Homo sapiens: one gene and its partners. The protein of the gene in region 3 binds, or shares a complex with, the protein of the main gene of each other region. Each region holds a gene or a part of one and is shown on either strand. Other genes may lie near its edges. The genes, in order: UBE2J1, FAM8A1 and HERPUD1.

The links.
Region 1: HERPUD1 (region 3) and UBE2J1 share a complex: the UniProt entries of both Homo sapiens proteins name them as parts of the HRD1 complex.
Region 2: HERPUD1 (region 3) and FAM8A1 share a complex: the UniProt entries of both Homo sapiens proteins name them as parts of the HRD1 complex.

What each region holds. Positions count from the first base shown.
Region 1 is NC_000006.12:89,349,710-89,357,104, forward strand, and holds the start of UBE2J1 (ubiquitin-conjugating enzyme E2 J1), read right to left. Parts: upstream 3,014-7,395; 5' UTR 2,861-3,013; coding exon 2,830-2,860; intron 1-2,829. UniProt on the Homo sapiens protein: Catalyzes the covalent attachment of ubiquitin to other proteins. Functions in the selective degradation of misfolded membrane proteins from the endoplasmic reticulum (ERAD) and is essential for cells to recover from ER stress.
Region 2 is NC_000006.12:17,603,161-17,610,326, reverse strand, and holds part of FAM8A1 (protein FAM8A1), read right to left. Parts: intron 5,422-7,166; coding exon 5,298-5,421; intron 4,454-5,297; coding exon 4,314-4,453; intron 2,133-4,313; coding exon 1,988-2,132; 3' UTR 1-1,987. UniProt on the Homo sapiens protein: Plays a role in the assembly of the HRD1 complex, a complex involved in the ubiquitin-proteasome-dependent process of ER-associated degradation (ERAD).
Region 3 is NC_000016.10:56,935,142-56,942,141, reverse strand, and holds part of HERPUD1 (homocysteine-responsive endoplasmic reticulum-resident ubiquitin-like domain member 1 protein), read right to left. Parts: intron 6,908-7,000; coding exon 6,830-6,907; intron 6,742-6,829; coding exon 6,667-6,741; coding exon of another isoform or gene 6,665-6,666; exon of another isoform or gene 6,651-6,664; coding exon of another isoform or gene 6,645-6,650; intron 5,456-6,644; coding exon 5,325-5,455; intron 2,906-5,324; coding exon 2,783-2,905; intron 2,248-2,782; coding exon 1,897-2,247; exon of another isoform or gene 1,741-1,896; intron 1,277-1,740; exon of another isoform or gene 11-1,276; coding exon 1-10. UniProt on the Homo sapiens protein: Component of the endoplasmic reticulum quality control (ERQC) system also called ER-associated degradation (ERAD) involved in ubiquitin-dependent degradation of misfolded endoplasmic reticulum proteins.

The DNA of each region.
Region 1 (7,395 bases), on a different chromosome or scaffold from region 3:
AGTTGGACATGAAACCTTGAGTGGATTAGTGGGAAGGTGCAGTTGACACCAATGGCATGGATAGGTAACTCTTAGACTTCTGGTGGAGGCAGTGGGTACTTTTGCACCAGTCTCTTATACTCCCACCACCTGCTGCACATGTCAATGGCCCCCTGATGAAGAAGCTGCCAAAGGAGGTGCTTTATACACATTTCTTCACTTTGTACTATAAGACCCTACTTCCTTGGCCAGAGCAGACCCAAACACGGGTCAAGTAGCTTGATCCATAGACAACTATTGACAGATTATAGACAAGTAGCATGATCCATAGACAACTACTGCTACTACAGTAGCAGATCCATAGACAACTACTGACAACTACCACAGACAACTACTGTGAGGTGATCCTACACAACAGCTCTATCCATAATCACAAGTCCATTCCAAAAAAAAACCATAAAGCAAAAAGTTTCCCCACCTATGAAATGAAAAAATTTACTATATCCACATGCTAGTACACTGGCCCTTAACCAGCTATCTGTATTGTCTTCACTTAATCTTTCCACTCATACATCAAAGACAATCCCACATCAGATAAAGAGTAAAAGATTATATCCCTCACATTGTGTGGTTGTTTTTTGTTTGTCTGGTATGTTGGTATTTTACGTGTGTGTGTGTGTGCACCCTGCCATACACAGGAAATTGGAGTTTTCAGTTGCTCCCCTTCACACAGGCATTACTCTAAAAATACCACAGGACTGAGAATAAAGCAAAGGAAGGAAGTATTTTCACAATGCCTCCCAGCATTTTCAGTAAGTCCCATATCTTACCTAATTCAACTTCTCCATGAACTCCAAATAATTCACACACTAACAAAAATAGATTTTTAAGAAGCATTGTGTTTTTTTTTTTAGAGCAGCAACACTATCTTTGAGGAAATGAAACCAGAAAAAGGAAGCAATTTATGACACAGCTAGAAGCATGTCAACCAAAGCTCAACCAGCTGACAATAGTTCACATACTTTGGAAATATACAAAATTCTGGAGATTTTTAAAAGCTTATCATCATAGTATTAAGTCTAACCTATCGAAATTGAGCGATGTTTTCTGACAACAATCTCTTGGGTTCCACCAGTTCTCCATTCTAAACTGCACTACTACTCACATGTGCATTATCCTCTGGACCTTTCACTAAGCACCTCTGCTGTCCTAAGGAACCGTGTGACCAGGGAGCCACCATACATTTTTACCCAAACAGCTCCAGTTAAATATACCACAATGTAAATAATTCAATCATTTTACCATCTAGCTTAAAAATTAAGCTTTTCTTTCCCTCTTTCTCTTTGGTCTTTTCTTCCTCCCTCCCCACCCCGGGATTCTCTTTTTTTTTTTTTTTTTTTTTTTTTTTTTTGAGATGGAGTCTCGCTCTGTCGCCCACACTGGAGTGCAGTGGCGCGATCTCGGCTCACTGCAACCTCCTCCCCGGGTCAAGCCATCCTCCTGCCTCAGCCTCCCGAGTGGCTGGAACTACAGGAGTGCGCCACCACCATGCCCGGCTGATTTTTGTGTTTTTAGTAGAGACGGGGTTTCACCATGTTGGCCAGGCTGCTCTCCACCTCCTGGGCTCAAGCCTCCCAAAGTGCTGGGATTACAAGCGTGTGCCACCGTGCCAGGTCTTCATCAGATTTTTTTAAGGAGTCAGTGGCTCCTAAAATATTATGACCAGTTCTACACACTTGGTCACCTAAGGACATTTCTTAGCCTGACAGCACTCAGGCTAACAAAGCTCCCTCCAATCAATATCCTCAGGCTTTTCTGGGGTTTTTGCATATTCTGAAACCTTACAAAAAACCCAAAGATTCACAGTGTCAACTCTTTCCACAAGGATGCTAGTCTTGCTAATTCCTACTGAGAAACAGCTTTTTTTGGAAGGAAATTTTAAGCAACAGCAAAAGTTGGTGAAATCATCACTAATATCCTAGAGTTTATCATGCAGAGTTAACTGTGGAGTTTCTTCCCCCTGACAAAATGTATCAAGGTACAGATAGAAAAAATACCATTTAGAGGATCCAATGATTCATTTCAAGCCTGTTTTATTAAGCTGAGAAAGCTAGTTGCTTATCTTTATAATGCACCAGAAAGTAATTAGAGGCTAGGATTGCTGGGACTGCTTGTGTAAATATAAAGCAGGATCATTAAATGCAGGAAAGGAATCGCTACGACTGAATACAGATACATTTCATATTAGCCAGTCTGGCAAAAATCAAGGTTAGCTCTCAAGAACAGGGCTCAACGAGGTGTTTTTTTGTTGTTGTTTTGTTTTGCTTTAGCTCTATAGTTAACTGGTTTAGTTACAGAACATTTCCTTTATGTCTGTAATTGTATTCGCCCAAGTGCTGCAAATAGGATATTTAAACGACCAACTCCTCAAATGTGAGTAAATCAGCCGGCAGTAAATAGAAGTAAATAGAAGTCCGGTGGCAGCGACAGGGAGGGAATAGCGACCAGGTACAGCGAGGGGGTTGATGACTATCGCCCACCGACATCACCTTTACACCTGTTCTCAGGGATGAGTTTCTGACCCAGCTCTACGGGACCAGGCGAAGATGAGAAAAGGGAGAGGCTGGGTGCTGCGGGGCGCGCTGGCCGGCCGGGGGATTGGCAGCGGACGTCCACCCGGCCACCTCGCCCTGCGGCCTGTACTTCCCGGGCAGGCGGCGGTCTCGCGTAGAGCGCGAAACCAGGAGCTGAGCCGCGAGTGGCGCCAGACGCGAGGGGACCGAGGCGGCGACCACCCCGGGGTCCAGGGTCACTCCGCCCTCCTCGCCCAGGGGCCCCAGCCCTGCTCACCCGGACTCTTCAGGTTGTAGCGGGTCTCCATGGTGGGTCGCTGGCTTGGCTCCGGCCTCCCGGGCCGCTGCCACCTCCTCTCCACGCGGCCGCTGCCCGGGTCTCAGCGCGGCTCGGGCGGACGGGGCCTGGCCGAGGAGCCTCGGCAAATGCCGCCCAGTCCAGCCTGGACTGCGGGCGGGGTGGCAAGGCTGAGTGCGGGCGAGGCGCTCGCTTCGCGATGGCGCCGCCTCCTCCACTGCGCCCCCGCCTCCCTGAGTGCCTGGCAGGCACCGGCGCCGGCCGGGGCGGCGCTGAACCGGGCGCCCGGGCTGGAGGTCAGCCTCCTCGGGTAGTCGCAGGCCCAGCCCTGCCGCGGCCGCCCGGCTTGCGTCACCCGCCCTCGTCCGGGATTTGTGAAGTTGCCCTGACGTGGCAGTAGCTTCGTGGCGGTCGGTCACTACCCAGCCGCCGCCCGCCCGGCGAAGCCGGCTTGGGGAGGTGCAGGAGCGAGCGGCGTCCTCGTCCTCTCGTCCCGGCCCTGCCCGCTGTAGGCGAGGTCCGGGACCCCCGGGCCCTCGAGAGCTCGGAGGGGGCGCCGGGCTCCGGCTGCAAAGCTGTCCGCAGCCGGCTGCCCGCGCGCGGTCCCGCAGGGTCTGGGAAAGGCTTTGTTTTTAGATTCAGTTGCTGTTGCGAGGGGCGGGGGTTAAGTGAGGAGGGGGAAAGCCAGTGACAAGGAAATGGAATAGGATTTTTTTTATTTTTTATTTTGTGTGTGTGTGTGACGGTGTCACCGCTCTGTCGCCCAGGCTGGGATGCAGTGGCGCGATCTTGGCTCACTGCAGCCTCTACCTCCCGGGCCCAAGCGATCCTCCCACCTCAGCCTCCAGCGTGGCTGGGACCACAGGTGTGTGCCACCATGCCCGGTTAATTTTTTGTATTTTTGTTAGAGACACGGTTTCACCGTGTTGGCCAGGCTCGTCTCGAACTCCTGGACTCAAGCGATCCGCCCGCCTCGGCCTTCCAAAGTGCTGGGGTTACAGGCGTGAGCCACGGCTCTGGCCAGAGTTGGATATTCATAACAATTTTTTTCTCGGGTAGTGTGTTAGGTGCACGACATGTTTTAGGCATTGCAGGAGTTTTGTTTTTTTTGGTTTGTTTAGATGTAAAAGCTGTCAAAAAAAGGAATTACATTTAATGTGAGGGAAAGCATACAAATATGAAAGGTTAAACTTCAAAGGACACACTTACTGCTTCATTGTCCAATGTGTGGGATCGAGAGAGGACTGAGTTCAAAAGACTTAAGGAGTAGGGACCTTACTAAAGGAAAGGAGGGAGGGATTGGGAAGGTGGGGAGGATAGAAAGGGTTAATCAGGTTGGGCAAGTTTTATTCTGTTATATAAAGACATAAACTCTTAAATTTGATTTGTTTTCTATTGTTAAAGTTAATCTAAATCTGTGAGTTTCTTGATGAAATTGGGAGTAAAAAAGTGAAGGATATCTAAAATTAGATGGTATATTTTAAATCATTCCCTGATGTTGTTTTCTGTATAGTAAACTGATAATCTGACTGACTGAGATATGCAAACAAAACCAAACTCCAATGCTGCTTCATTCATTCATTGTGTTGAATCTTCAGATTAACTGACACTTGACACCCTCTCCTGCCACAGCTCTACAAAAGCCCCTAATTTGTGCAGTAGGCCCTACCACAGCAAGGCCTGCAAAGCAGGTGCTGTATATAATGCGTTCCTATTTGATAGCTGAGTACTAGAAGCCTTTTGCTATTCAGCCTCCAAGGTCCATCAATCTCTGGGTGCAGTTGTCCTCTGGGGCTCTCCTTTAGCCACCACCACCTCCACTGCTCCCTGGGGCTCTTCTCCCATAGGACTGGTTCAGTAGGAATAACAATCTCTCCTTCCTTGGTTAACAACAATAACAACAATTTATTGTGGACATGTGCCCATAACAATTTAATTATGGGCACATATCAAAGCTTAATTACAATCATGCTCCAAGATCAAAGCCAATTCCAAAATTTCTCTCAGCAGAGACATTTACAGAGAAAAGAGAAGTGGCTGGCAGGTGTGGTGGCTCATGCCTGTAATCCCAGCACTTTGGGAGGCCAAGGCGGGCAGGTCACCTGAGGTCAGGAGTTGGAGACCAGCCTGGCCAACATGGCAAAAACCTGTCTCTACTAAAAATACAAAAATTAGCTGGGTGTGGTGGTGCATGCCTGTAATCCCAGCTTCTCGGGAGGCTGAGGTAGGAGAATCACTTGAACCCAGAAGGCGGAGGTTGCAGTGAGCCGAGATCAACCTGGGAGACAGAATGAGACTCCATCTCAAAAAAAAAAAAAAAAAAAAAAGGCCAAGGTGGGCAGATCACTTGAGCTCAGGAATTCGAGATCAGCCTGAGCAACATGGTGACACCCATCTCTACTAAAAATATACACACACTCAAAAATTAGCCGGGCATACGTACCTGTGGTCCCAGCTACTCTGGAGGCTGAGAAGGGAGGATCAGTTGAGCTCTGGGGGATGGAAGAGGAGGAGCAGGCTGCAGTGAGTCATGATGGTGCCACTGCACTCCAGCCTGGGTGATAGAGCGAGACCCTGTCTCAAAAAGACAGATACAAAGAGAAGAGTAATTTTATTTAAAGGTTACTAAATTCTTGACTGACAGCTGGGTGGGAAGGGAGCTCATTTCCTTGGAAAATTTCTTATCCAAAAATTGCTTATTTTTTTAAACTAGAACACTTATTTCTTTCAAGAAAAATTTACAAATTATATCAGGTAAAGTTTTAATCCAAGATCAAATTTGGGGTAATTTTTTCTTTACTTTTGATGATCCTAAGGAAAACTCCTTTTTTTTTTCATTTTAAGATTTTTTTTTTTAATCCTTAAAGCCGACTTCGTAACTAATAAAAATGACAAAAGATGAGGTTTAAAATGTTTCAGAATCTTAGAAAACATCTTAGAACCACAATCCTTGACCTGTGTAATTCATCTTTTCCTTAGTTAGGAACCAGAAGTCCTTTGAAGTGCAGGCCCTTTCTCCACCGCCATTTGCATCCTTGTGCAAGGTCTGGACTATAGTTTTTTAGCATCTACTGTTTATCAGGCACTTGACATAACATCAACTCATTTATTCTTCATAACAGCCTTGGAAGTGGCACTGATTATTTATACCCATTTTACAGATGAAGATAATTTAGGTCTCAGAGAAATCAAGTGTCTACTTCTCAGTTTTTTCAACTACAGATTATTATCTTTCTGGCATATGATTTTTTATGTTAATGAGAGGAAATTTTTCTAGATTTTCATCTATTTCTTGATTTGGTTTGAATACTTTGAAATATATTTTATAAAGGTTCTTAAAGCTTCAATGACTTATTCAAAAAAAACTTCAGTGACTTATCTAGAAAATGAAAGAACCCTGATTCAAGTCCAGGTCTTCTGACTCTGAAACTTGGGTTTTTTTGCTACACTAAAAAGAATCAGGCTGTTTTGTGACATTTGAGTTTTCCACTATTTGAAAAAAGTATATGCTTCTTACAACCTCCGAGCTATTCTTGGTTCACACATTTTACTTATTCTTTAGCACTAGAAACTTTTTTTTAAATGATTTTCTTCTTGATCATAAAAGTAATACAGTGGTTCAATATGTGGAATATGAACAAAATCCAAATCTCCCATAATCCTCCTGCTTAGAAAAGGACATGATACAGATTTTGGTATATTTACCTTGAGGTTTTGTTTATAAGGCATAGATATTTTAAGAACTGATATCCCATTATACCACATATACTTTTCTATACTTAAAATATCTGCCATTAGCTAACTGGATTACTTGTTTTGCCAGTTGCATTGTTATTATCACTTAAACTGATAGTGTGAATCAGCTTATTTTACATCAATGTCTTCCTAGAGTAAAATTTAAAAAAAAAAAAACCTCAGAAAGCCATATATAAATTTTATTGCATCGCTTCTCAGTCTTTTGGCTAAGATCAAGTGTAGACTTTATTGTAAACATTTTGTTAATTACCTTGAATACTTTATAATTTTTTTTTTTTCAGAAAAAAAAAAAAACCACCTGCTATAGTTTTTTCTCTTGTTTTACCCCCAGGATTTCCCCTTGGGATTGGTTAATAAGAAACATGGAACATTTTCCCATGGGGATGTAGCTGGTATTAATGTAATGGAGATGTTAGTTGTGTTATTACCAGGGACACAAGTTTAAACTCTGGTTACCTGAACAAAAATGTCAGGCAGGAAGGAGCTCTCAGTTTTTGGGTGCCTCACCTTAGTGCAATTGCAGGTCTAATAGTTATGCTTTTGCTTACCATCTGGCAGCCAGCTGAAAGATCTAGGAGAGAAAATGCTTCTGTTTTTTTTTTTTTCTTCTCAGTTTCTCCTATGTTCAAGATAGGTCTTGCTTGTTCATTCTATTTTAACACTTTTCTAATATATTTCAGGAGAAAATATTATGGAGGGATATCAAGCAAATATATTTGAAATACAGTAGAGTGCTTAGAATACTAGTTTAGTAGGTTCCTTCACCAGACGACTTGTGTACCATTTCTC
Region 2 (7,166 bases), on a different chromosome or scaffold from region 3:
AATTAAACTGGACTAGTTTGCTTTTGTTTTATAGTATAAATGAAAATAATCTCGATGGCAAACTATTCAATTATCTGAGCAGAAATTATGAATGAAAGATGTATTCCAGACCTATATGATTGAGGGACATTTCAACTTGAATTCCCCAGCGGCAAAAGTGGTGTATAAACTAATGCTAGTGTATACACTACTAAAGTGCCAAGTTACGTAACATCTCCTAATTTTAAAAATGAAAGATTTTTCTTTTTTTCACTGTGAAGGGCAGTAACACAATCTTCCCCATGGGTGCAACTGAATGATTTATTTAGTACATTGATGTACTTAATTATTAGTGTTTCTGGGAAGCTGGATTTGACATAAACTTATTTTGAAAAACACGGTTTATGAAATTTTGTACTAAAATTATTAATAGACATTAAGTTTCTATAATCAAATGTGAATATCTGTTGTCACAGTTTTAAACGTCAAAGAAAAACCTTTGAAAATTAATATAGTGATAATAGATATGTGCTGTGTTTGCTGTTAAATTTAAGACCAAGAACACCACCTAGATTGATCCCTTAAGTAATCAAATTTTGAACTGTGCAATGCAGTTTAGTGTGTCTTTGGAAAACAATGTCAGAGCTGGAGAAAATACCTAAGAATCAAAACTTAAACCATAAATAGTACAGGTATATCTCAGCACAGCTAACTGGGACATCTAGGAAAAGCACACACACATAATAAAACCCCACAATTTTGCTTCAACAGAAGAATAAAGCAAAATGGCAACATACACAGTATCACTTTGCGTAACATTTCCCCCCAAACTTTAGCAGACCCAAAATGAGCTTAAAGACCCTAGAATGATGTCTGGGAATGCTAGTCTCTCTTGCTTTAGAGAGAATAGTCCATAATGGGAAAATTGCTAATATTTCGCAAGCTATTAATTAATAGTACTTAGAGTTAATCATGAAATATTAAGATTTTTTTAACTCCTTGATGTTTCAACAGTCATAGAACTATATAAAATATAAGGAAAGTAGTATGTGAATATGCTGTATATAAATAGAATTTACACTGAGAACACTGAGAAGCACTAATACTTTCTTCATGCTGCACACATACTGGGAATACTTTTACAGTAAATATGCAACTGTTTGATGGAGGTGATTTCTCCCCACATTTATAGTTTGATTCAGGGCACTGAAAACACTTGCACATAAATTATAAGTTCAATTTACAGTGAAAACTTACTCCCCCACCATTAACAGTAATCACTAACTTACCTTTTAAAAAAAAAAACCAATTAACATAGCAATATGACTTGATACTTTTTCATCATCATGAGAAACTTGCCCCTAAATACATGTTCAAGCATTAAGAATAGTTGTAAAGTTACATCATTACGAGAGGGAACTGCAGTATGGATTTGAAAACTTCAGGTAAGGGAACTGCTAGGCCTGCCTCACTTGTCCCTTTCTCTTGTAGCCAACTCACCACCTCCTGGGATGGGAGACAGTGGATTATCCAATTTGTGTTCTCATTCCCTCCTCTAAACACCAAAGACAATTTCCCCAGGAAGTGTAAACTAAAAGATGAGTTACATAGGTGTTTACAAAACACAACTGGACATTTTCCATTATTTTGGGATAAACCAAAATAAATTTTAAAGTTTCATTTGGAGATTTCAAAGCTGAAAATGCTTTCAGCAAATTCTTAGATCTTAAGAAAGTACCTTAGATCTTAAGAAAGTATATATTGTCCATTGTTTATAAAATCATTTGCCTTTTTGATCTAAAAATTTTAATACTTGAATTTAACAGGTTTTTCTTCTGGACAAGTTCTTTGGCATTCAAGTATAATCAATACTTTCAGAGTAGTCACCTGCATCACACTGGAGTGACTGCTTTAATTTCTAAATCATCAATTAGTGTAACCCAGGGATACTGATGGCCTTGATACATAATTTAGTCTTAGTGTGTGGAAATCAGGGTTTTGGGGGGCATCATCTGACCCCATTTCTTTTTACCACAATGGTTCCTGCTACAATGTCATAAGCTGTTCGATTATGCTGAAAAAACAGCAGTGTGATGAAAGCAGGGAAAAAAGAAGCAATTGAAAAATTCTTGATCAAAGCTCGGATAGTGGACCTAAAAAGTTAAAACAAAAATATCAGGTAAGTTACACATCAAACCACATATAGATTAATGGTATCCCATCAAGTTCAAAATAGACATTTAAAACACAATTGTACTTCTCTACAGAAGTCTACAGGGAAAAAGACATTCAAGGTATAGTTGAGAGAATTTTTACCTTTGATATATTTTCAAGTAGCACTGTATCATGATCAAACCACCTGGGCTATTTCTAATAAGACTTCAACAACATAAAAAGCAGTAATAAACATGTCTCAGAATATTGAATTAATGGTTTACAGAGCTTTCTAGTATTTTCTCAGAAGAAATGAACATTAATTCTGAGTACTTTCTGAGTATGCTTACTGTAGTCCCATTTGTCTACCTTATAGAAAAAACATGCATTTTAAAGTACTGTGTGTTCTTTAATCAGCATTTTCCTTTGTGGGATCCAGTGATTAAGCAAAGCTTTTAAAAGCTTTCAACAATCACTCAGGATGGAGAATTATCCTACTTATGTTAGATTTCTGCCTTTTAGTGCACTGAAGGGCTGCAGAAAAGTACAGTGGCTAGGAGTGTGGGTTCTGAATCCAGACTAGTTAAATTCAGATCCATCGTCTACCAATTACTAGTTGTATTCCACATCTGCAAAAAGGGAACAATAGTATCTATCTTATGATACTATAGATAGTATATAGATACTACCTATAGTATATAGATACTACCTATAGTATATAGATAGAGACTACCTATAGTATCTTATGATACTATAGATATAGATCAATAGTCTCTATCTTATGAGGTTGTTAGCATTAAATTAATACATATGCAGTGTTATTAACAGTGCAGGTATATAAAAAGTACTCAATAAACATTAGCCATTACTGACTCTTATTAAAAGAAGTAGGTAGGTTTATAACTACCAGTTTTGTTTTGTTTTTTTTTTTTTTTGAGATGGAGTCTTGCTCTGTCGCCCAGGTTGGAGTGCAGTGGTGCAATCTCAGCTCACTGCAAGCTCTGCCTCCCGGGTTCATGCCATTCTCCTGCCTCAGCCTCCTGAGTAGCTGGGACTACAGGGCCCGCCACCACGCCCGGCTAATTTTTTGTATTTTTAGTAGAGACGGGGTTTCACCATGTTAGCCAGGATGGTCTCGATCTCCTGACCTCGTGATCTGCCCACCTCAGCCTCACAAAGTGCTGGGATTACAGGCGTGAGCCACTGTGCCCGGCTATAACTACCAAATTTTAAGAAAAATTTGAAGATGGCAAAACCAAGGTTTCTAGAATCACTTGTTTATATTTCTTGATGTAACAATCCAGCTCTGAATCATTCTGGCAAAAATTGCAGCCAATACCTTGTTTGGCTCAACTGACTACCAGCCACTGACCTCCACAGTTTCCATTATCACTGGTTGTACCTTCCCCCAGCGCTAGATGCCAACAGCTAACCTTGAATACTGGCAGTATTACAAGCTCTCACCTAACAGCAGGAGAAGGATGCACGAATGCATAGCTGTCAAAACTCTGCTGCCTATTCAAGATGGAATAATGACAGGCATGGCCAAATGGAGACTCAAGGCAGACTAGTACCTGACCTAACATCCACAGGTCCAAAGAATAATAAAGCTGATTGTGGAGCACTAATACACCATCAACACCCAAATCATCCTCTCGTATTGTGACTTATAATTCATAAAATGATCATCTTGAGGCAGGGCATGGTGGCTCACGTCTGTAATCCCAACACTTTGAGAGGCGGAGGCGGGTGGATCATGAGGTCAGGAGATCAAGACCATCCTGGTTAACACGGTGAAACCCCGTCCCTACTAAAAATACAAAAAATTAGCCGGGCGTGGTGGCGGGCACCTGTAGTCCCACCTACTCGGGAGGCTGAGGCAGGAGAATGGCGTGAACCTGGGAGGCGGAGCCTGCAGTGAGCCGAGACTGTGCCACTGCACTCCAGCCTGGGCAACAGAGTGAGACTCCGTCTCACAAAAAAAAAAAAAAAAAAATCATCTTGAAAATGTGTACTGTAAAAGAGGTCTACAATCATGTAACACAACTGAAATAAATATTCAAACTTTGTTTTAACTTAATAAATATAAGCCTATCTACTATGAAGAAAAAAACCCCAATATTCTAAAACACATTATTTTCATTAAGTATGTAGTAGATTAAGCTAAGAAAAGGACTTACGTTGTAATGCTAACATTTGAGGAAGGAATCACTAAAACCCGACTTGGTGCAATAAGCACTGATGTATCACATGTCACAACTCGAAGCCCCAGCAGGAACTTCCCTGGGGTAGCTCCACCTGCTCCCCAAATGCAAATTATCTAAGGAAAGAAGGATGATTTAAAAATTACTGGCTCAACTATACCAATTTTAAAGATAAACTTTTCCCACCATATTATTTCATGTTTTAAATTTTTCAAGTTGAAAGAATTGCATAGAATACTCAAAAGTTAACCATTTAACTTTATGCATTTCTGTAGGTCTCTAACATGTCCAATACCACAAGATGTCTGTCTCCTGTAATATTTCTCTATGACTACTATACTTTCTAGTAAGCTGCTTCTGCAGAAAACTACATTGCAATTTACAAGTATATTTTTGGACCACAATCTATAAGTGAAATTTTATTTGAGTTTCTAAGACTGAAAAATATTACAAAGAAATTGTAAAATGTCTCTCTTCCAAAAGTTTTTACTTAATGATTAGTTAAAATTTGGGAAAAAAAACAGAAAAGTAGACATGTGGAAAAGACATGAATAATTATAAATTTCGATTACTTTTTCGTCTTGGGCTGATAATCTAAAATTAGATTGTTGGCTAGGTGCAGTGGCTCATGCCTGTAATCCCAGCACTTTGGGAGGCCAAGGTGGGCAGATCACTGAGGCCAGGAGTTTGAGACCAGCCTGGCCTACATGGCAAAACCCTGTCTCTACTAAAAATACAAAAATTAGCCAGGTGTGGTGGTATGCACCTGTAGTCCCACCTACTCAGGAGGCTGAGACAGGAGAATCACTTGAACTCAGGAGGCAGAGGTTGCAGTGAGCCAAGATCACACCACTGCACTCCAGCCTGGGTGACAGAGCGAGACTCTGTCTCAAAAAAATAAATGTAAAAACATAAAATTAGATTGTTAAATATTAATTCTTGCTGAAGTCAGTAGCTTACCTCATAGAAACAAACTAATAATCTGTATATAAGTGCCACAACCATCATTTTCTGCAAGTCTTCCATTGATGTGTCTTCATCTATTTCTTCTATTATATAATGCATAGCAAACTTAGAGATATCCCTACACAAAATAATAGTTTGGGGTTATAAATAATTAGTTACCAGAACAGTAGCACTGACTTTTTTTTCATTAGTGCAAGTCATACATTTTAATTGAAATTCTAAACTAATCTTTAGATTCCCAACCATCTAGTATCATAAAGCATTCATTAGTTTATTCAACAAATAAGCAGCATTATCATGAGCAGACACTGTACTAGCACGGGGGAAATAAGGGTGAATGAATTTACACGGTCCCTGCTTTCGTGGAGGGTCTAACCTAGCAAAGAAAACAGAACAATAAATAAATAGCAATAATAAAGTGGGATGAGTGCTGTGATGGGGAACCTAGGATACTATGGAAACATACACCAGATACACTTAACCTTGTGAAGGTTTCCCAGAAAAGACAGTTAGATGAGGCTCTGAAGGATGAAGAGAAGTTAGCCAGACTAAGAAGAGGAAATAACGTTCCAGAAAGAGGGAACAGCAGGAGAGAATGTCTTGGAGAAAGAGAGAATATGATAGAAGCTGTAAGCAGTTTGGTGTGGCTCATATACTAAATGTGAGAGGTGGCAGTGATTAAGAAATAAAGGCAGGGTGTGGTGGTATGCACCTGCAGTCCCACCTACTTGGGAGGTTGAGACAGCCTCCTGAGTATAAACCACATGATGAAATTCAGACTTTATCCTGCTGGTAAAGAGAAACCATTGAAGGGGCTGAGCATGGTGGCTCACGCATGTAATCCCAGCACTTTGGGAGGCTGAGGTGGGAGGATCGCCTGAGCCTAGGATTTTGAAAGCAACCTGGGCAACACAGACCCCATCTCTAAAAAAACAATAAACATTTTAAAAAGAGAAACCATTGAAGGGTTTTAAGGTAGGAAAGGAACAGAACCAGGATTTATGATCACTTTGGTTTTATATCAGAGACTGGATTGAGATAAAACAGGAGACTGAGTTACCACTAGAAGGCTTCTGCTATAATCCAAGCAAGAGACGACAGTAATCGGAGTAGGGAGAAGCAATGATGATAAAAAATGGGCCAGGTGTGGTGGCTCATGCTTGTAATCTCAGCACTTTGGGAAGCTAAGGCAGGAGGATCATTTGAGCCCAGGAGTTTGAGACCAGCCTGGGCAACATAGGGAGACCCCATCTCTACAAAAAACAATTTTTTTTTTTAATTAGCTAGGCATGGTGGAGCATGCCTGTGGTCCCAGCTCCTTGTGAGGCTGAGGTGGGAGTGTCACTTGGGCACAGGAGATCAAGGCTGCAGTGAGCCATAATTGTACTACTGCACTCCAGCCTGGGTGACAGAGCAAGACTCTGTCTCAAAAAAAGAAAAATGATCTGGCAGTGAGGAGGTCTGGGGTTGAAAGCTATTCAGAAAATTGAACATAAAGGAGTTGGTATTTCACTGGATGTGGAGTGGAGTGAGAGGGAGGGACAGGGAGGAATCACAGTAACAGGTTTCTGGCAAGGACCCTGAAATTTGACTGCACAGGCTTGTATCTTGACTCTGTCACTTACTACCTTTGTAACATTTTAGGTTCTGTGCTCAACTTTTCATAAACCCAAATTTCAAACTCTATAAAATGGTGGTATTAATCTCTACACCTCATCTTGGTATTAAGATTAAATAAGAATCCACATAAAGAAGTGAGCAAGCTCAATACATGGCATATAGAAAGTACTCAGGAAGTGGTAACTGCTATTATGATTATTGTTAATCTGGAAGGATTACTCAAATAAACGTCTCACTTTGAAG
Region 3 (7,000 bases):
AACGTGATGCCTTCAAAGGAAGCACATAAAAGTCCATCTTAGCTGATGTCACAGTGAGACTTACTCAAGAATCCAAGGCTCCCCACCTCTAATCACAGCAGCACCCTGATAAGCTCACTGCAAGACCCATCTACAGAGGCATTTGATCACACTGTCTCCCAGACATTCTCACCAGTCTGTAAGGTCCTTGAAGGCAGGGACTGTGTTTTATTCATCATTGCACACCCAGCCATATAAACAGCACCTGGCACATAGTATGCACTCAATAAATGCTTATGACGAACTAAACCTTACCCTTGAAAACCTGAACAGAGCGGGGAGAATGCATATACCTACAAAGCTATAATTATATATAACATAATGACAACCTACATTTGGTCTTTTAAATATATGATTCTAGAGACTACAGAAAATATTAACTAAACGTTTTATTTGAAGAAACCAATTAAATCCCAAGTCTTAAATATAATAAAATATTAACAATGACTAATTGTGGATATTTGAGTGTTCATTATATTCTAATTATTCCTTTTTTATTTTTAAAAGCTAAAATAAAAATCCATTTTTACTATACAGGAAAATTTCTTCTTTTAGTTTCAACCACGAAGACCCATCACTCTAGGCCAGGCTTTCTCAGCTTTGGCACTAGTGACATATTGAGCCAAATATTTACTGTGGGAGTTGTCCTGTGCATTGTAGAAAATTCAGCAGCACTCTTGCTTCTACTAACTAGACGCCAGCAGGACCACTTCCCCTAGATGTGACAACCAAAAATATCTACACATTGCCAAATGTCCCCTGGGGAGAGAGGGTACAAAACCACCCCCAGTTGAGAACTACTGCTTCGGGCCACAGCTAAAACCAAATGTCAGGTATGTGAAGGTTCCCTTGCCTTTCAGGGCCATGCTAACAGTCAGTGCCTGACTTTACCCTGGAAGGCAGCTGTGGTCTGATAAAGGCAAATGTGTTCTCATTCAAAACAAATACAGTTTTCTGTTCCATGCCTCAGTATGGCTACATACTTGTGGTTTGTGAGCCTGGAAGGTAAGGTAGCTTATCTAGAGGACAAGATAATATTCTTATATTAACACAGGATTGATATGTTCTTGGGACCATACAACCAAGCCATGAATTCCTTGTATCGAAAGTGCCAGAATACATACTATTTATTATGTATTTATTCTAAGACAGGGTCTTGCTCTGTCACCCAGGCTGGAGTGCAGTGGTGCGATCTTGGCTCACTGCAACCTCTGCCTCCCCAGTTCAAGCAATTCTCCTGCCTTAGCCACCCAAGTAAATTACAGGCCCGTGCCACCACACCCGGCTAATTTTTTGTATTTTTAGTAGAGACGGGGTTTCACCATATTGGCCAGGATGGTCTCAAACTCCTGGCCTCATGTGATCCTCCTGCCTCGGCCTCCCAAACTGCTGGGATTACAGGTGTGAGCCACTGCGCCCAGCCACAGAGTGATATACTATTTAAACACATCTCCTTCTACAGTAACTGAGACTGCTCAAAAAAGAGCAAAATCTGGCCAGGCGCAGTGGTGGCTCACGCCTGTAATACCAGCACTTTGGGAGGCCAAGGTGGGCAGATCACTTGAGGTCAGGAGTTCGAGACCACCTGGCCAACATGACCAAACCCCGTCTCTACTAGAAATATAAAAATTAGCCAGGCATGGTGGTGGGCGCCTGTAATCCCAACTACCCAGGAGGCTGAGGCAGGAGAATCGCTTGAACCTGGGAAGCGGAGATTGCAGTGATTGTGCCATTGTACTCCAGCCTGAATGACAGAGCGAGACTCCATCTCAAAAAAAACAAGAAACAAAAAGAGCAAAATCTGCTTAGTGTGAACACAGTGTAGTGTAATTTATATTAGAGAAACCATCTGCTTACAGGTACATAACAACGGTGGCCCCCATGACCATGAGGAATCTGCTCAGGGAGGAGTAGAAGTAGAGGATACTGAGAAAAACAGAAAATGTAGCTGCTGAATAGGTCCAATCCAACCAATCTCGATTTATTTCATCATCTTCTTCCACAATAGGGCCACCTTGTGCATTCATCCGCAAATTTTGATTGGCTCCAGGATTAACAACCACTTGAGGAGCAGCATTCTGATTGGCAGGCTGGTTTTCAGCTGGAAACTGGTTGTGAATAGGGGCTGGAGCAGGTGCAGAGACCACAGGTATCTCTTGTGCACTTGGTGGTGGAACAAAAGCCCCTGATGCAGCAGTGGCTGCTAAACTAAAATAAAAACGACAGAGGCAGATACTGTTGAGACCAAAGCACCGTGAAGTCTGTGGCTTATTTACACAGCAGTCTTTTACTGTTAAGAATTTCAAGTAGGTAGATATGCCTTTGATTTTTCTTCAATTTAGTGAAGAACTTCCTTACTAACTATATCTATAAATGCCTTTTCTAAGAAAAGCCACAAGGTGAATTTCACCTGAAATTAAACATCAAGCCCACTGTAAGATTATGGCACAGTAGCAAATTAAAATCCTCACAAAACTTTGAAGATAGCACAAATTGAAAAGAAAGTAACATGTTCTAAATAAAGTCACTAAACTATGTATCAGACAAAAGCACCCTTGTGTCAATACACAAATCAGGTAGCAGCTGTCATTTACACTCTACCCACAGACCAAACAGAGCAGGGCTCTGCAGACTGATGAAAATACACTCATCCCTCCATTCTGAACTTTACAGGTAACATGGATAAAATTCCCTTCAATTCCCGGGAGCCCTGGCCACACCCAGCATGGCGGGAAGGACTCACTATTGCATGTAGTACTGTCGTGCATATATCTGCTGGAACCAGGAAAGCTGAAGCCACCCATAGGGTGTGTAACCGGAGAAACCAGGACCCAGGCCTTGGAATGCCTGCTGGGCAGCTTCAGGCCTATACATAGATTTGAAAAAACACTCATTTTGAGTGGGTTGAGTATGAACAAATGAAAACTAAGTTTAAATTAAAATCAAGAATTCAAATCGAAGAGACAGAAGAATGGAATTTACGGCAGTTACATGGTAAATGACTGTATGACGCACCCATGTACCACAAGCACAGAAGGTACTAAATGACACAGCACTTCTACCACAGTCCCATCCCACAGGAAAACAACAGCCCTTGCCACCTGCTTGCTGAGTGCACAGATATATAAACAACCTTTTTGGGTTAAGTAGATCCCACCTCAGTTTTGACTTGTTGAGTCTCACTGCAGGTCTCAACCCACTGTTCATCTTTTAGAGAGCAGCTCAAAAGCCACATTTCTCCCAGTCTTTCCTGAAGGAAATCTCTCCCATCCTCCCAATATCCACTTCTTCCTCCATCCTCCATCTGAATCTATAGTGAAGTGTGCATGTGGTATCACCTGTGCATGCTTACTGACCACCGGGGGTCCTGTACAGGCTGCTGGGTCCACAGCAATCTCATGAAGGAGATTTTACAAGGGGAACCCAAGTACAGCTCAGGGAAGACAGGGGCTTTGCACAAGGTCACTGAGCTAGTAAGTAGCAGGGCTGGATTTCAGAGCTGGTCTGATGTCAAATGCATGCTTCTTTTTTTTTTTTTTTGAGATGGAGTCTCGCTCTGTTGCCCAGCCTGGAGTGCAATGGCGCAATCTCGGCTCACTGCAAGCTCCACCTCCCGGATTCACACCATTCTCCTGCCTCAGCCTCCCCAGTAGCTGGGACTACGGGCACACGCCACCACACCTGGCTAATTTTTTGTACTTTTAGTACAGACGGGGTTTCACCGTGTTAGCCAGGATGGTCTCAATCTCCTGACCTCGTGATCCGCCCACCTTGGCCTCCCAAAGTGCTGGGATTACAGGTGTGAGCCACCGCGCCCGGCCAAATGCATGCTTCTTTAATCAGGCCACACAGCCCTCAACTTCACAGGGCAGGTGTATGCGAGTCATCTTTGGCTTTGTGCTTCTTACACAGTCAATTTCTTCAGTAGCACATCACAAAATTGAAACCATAATAGAATTGCCCAAAGATCAGAAATTGGTTATGTGGTCATTCCTGCAGGTCAACTCATATCCTTAAGCAAAGTTGTATGTACTGGCTGTTCAATAAATATTTGTTAAAGGAAATCAAGTTTAAATATGGTGAGATTCAGAGAGTCAAATATGAGCCTCAATTCTCAAGTTAAGAATAGTTGAATCAGAATAAGGGAAGTAGTTTTAAGTTTTTCTAACCAATAATTTTCTATCCAATAATTATCCAATTTATATGCTGACAATCTTTTAACTAAATTCCATACACAGAGTATTTCTAAAATAGTATTCCAATACAAGTAAGCTTTGGTATGATGCTGTTTTTGATCATTTAAGAAAATTACAGTGCATGGAAATAAAATGATAAAGTGCTTTTAAGATTTCTGTTAGATCTGATAATGGCATTCTAGATATACAAGATAACTAAAAGGTTTTCATAGTTATATACTGAAGAATATAGGGATGAAATAACATGATGCCTGGGAATTACTTTTAAATACTCTTTTTTTAAAAAAAAGGGAAAGGGTAATAGATGAGCTATGGTAAAACTCTGATTGTTATTTATTAGGCCTGGGTGATGGTGTGGGGATTAATTATCCAGTCCCCACTGTTGTGTATATTTGAAAGTTCCATTAAGGGGGAAAAGGAAGAAAAACTCATTCCTAAAACACCTGGCTTTATAAAATATTGTGTATAAAAAGTACTAGAAAAAGGGGGACGGAGAATTGGAGAGTTACAGAATTGCAACTTGCAGTTAATGAATTTTTCCCCAAAAACAATGTATTCCAAGAGCTATAAAAATCCAAATAACAGAGCATTTAGTTCTGACTTTTGCTCTAAAGAAAAGCTTTAATAGTTATAAGAAATTGGCCAATTTTCCTAGTACCCCCAAGTCTTTGGAAGGACACTTCTTAAACAGTCTCTCCCTTGTTGTCACCCATTGTTACAATAAAGCACAAAGCCACTCAGCAAAGCAGCTGCACAATGCTTACGACAGCTGTTTTCTCCTGCAGCAGCACTAATTTCCTATCATGACGGCAACCAAGCGGTCAGCACAATGGAAGGATAAAACGCCTACATTTTCTTTTTTTTTTCAATATATGCATTACCTACTTTTTAAATTTGTGTGTACTAAAAGGCTGTGTATTAAGAAAAGTTAAATATATAAGAGATCTTTAAAGCGAAGCTATTTATAAAGCAAAATTCTGTATGTTTAAAAGTTCTGATTATATACGTGTAAACATACCTTATTCTTAAATTGATGCAAACGAGGAACATTCATGTTGCATAAGCCAAGATCTTTATTATAACACTCACCTTGAGATGTTTTCCCATCCAGGGGAAGAAAGGTTCCGAAGAACTTCCCTTTGCCTTAAACCATCACTTGAGGAATCCTCAGGATACTGTCCCCGATTAGAACCAGCAGGCTCCTCTGTGGATTCAGCCACCTAAATAAGTGTAACATGAACACAGAACAAAGGAGCTGATGCAACTGTCTGAAATCAAGCAAAAGGAATTATTTTGCTGTCAAGGGCTTACATCTCCTACCCCCCACCTCTGAACGTGACAAAATTAAACAGAAGCAACGTTATGTAAAAAATAGTCTGACATTTATTCAACATAATTTTCAATACATAGATGCTAAAATATTCATATTTTTTCCCTAGAGTATGCTACACTTTCATTAAAATCTTCCAATGAAGTTGTCATTGGTGAGAAAGCTTCCTGATAATGGTGCTAAATTTACTCATTGCAGACATCTGACCAACAAGATTTATAAATACAACCCAGCCCACAACTTTCTAAAATAGTATTCCAATATAAGTAAGCCTTGGTATGATACTGTTTTTGATCATTTAAAAAAATTACAGTGCAGGGAAATGAAATGATAAAGTGCTTTTAAGATTTTTGTTAGAACTGATAATGGCAAAATAGGGAATTTCCTATGCTCTGTTCAGATGTTCTAGGAAATATAATGCAAATTTAGAGTGCATCACTACATTAGAATACTAATACCATATATGTGAATAAACATTGTGAAATGAAAAATAAATGGTTTCGTGTGTCATATATGTCTTTAGAGCCAGGTCTAGTGGCACATGCCTGTAGTCCCAGCTACTCAGGAGGCTGAGGTGGGAGGATCGCTTGCCCTCAGGAGTTTGAGAAAAGCCTGGGCCACACAGCGAGACCATTTTTAAAAAAAAAAAATTCTTTAAAGATCACTTGATAAAAACTCTGATCTTTTCCTATCCAACTAATCACAATGAAAATTTCCAAAGGAAATATATTCACTTTTGTACTCTTTATAAAAATTAGTGACTCCTTTGAAGAAACTTGCTATGTGCTAAATTCAATAAAAACCCGATTAGTGTTAGTTCAGTAATCTAGATACACAGTAACCATAGATCAAATCATATCCCATAAGATAGTGCAATATGTAACTCCACCTTTCTACTACAGCACTAACGGAACAATCTGCTACTATTAACTCATCACTTTGTGTTGATAATACAGTTTCTAATTCCTAGGAAAGAAACAAAATATTACTTGGTAATAACACCATACAGTCTCTCAATAAACGTTTTATCCAACTTCTTTTATTACTCCCCTGAAAGTCTGAATGATACAAATTGTTACCATCATGAAGAGGCAGACACACCTTGGCGTTGATTTCTGGCATTTTTGAAGGACTCTTCACATTGCACACCAGATGCAAAACATGCCGTTTTTCCTGCTAAAAGTAATACGAAGGTACTTAAGGACCTGAACCTAACCTGGTGAGTGCTTAAAAACATTCAGAAGTTAATGTGTAAGTGATGTACCTTTGGAAGCAAGTCCCTGAGACATTGGTGATCCAACAACAGCTTCCCAGAATAAATTAACCTCTGGTCCTCTGGACGCTGATCATGGAAAGAAAGAGTAACACAGGTCAGCATTTCACCCCTACAAGTTCCTAAACACAGAATAAACTGTTTTATACAAGTAATTTGAAT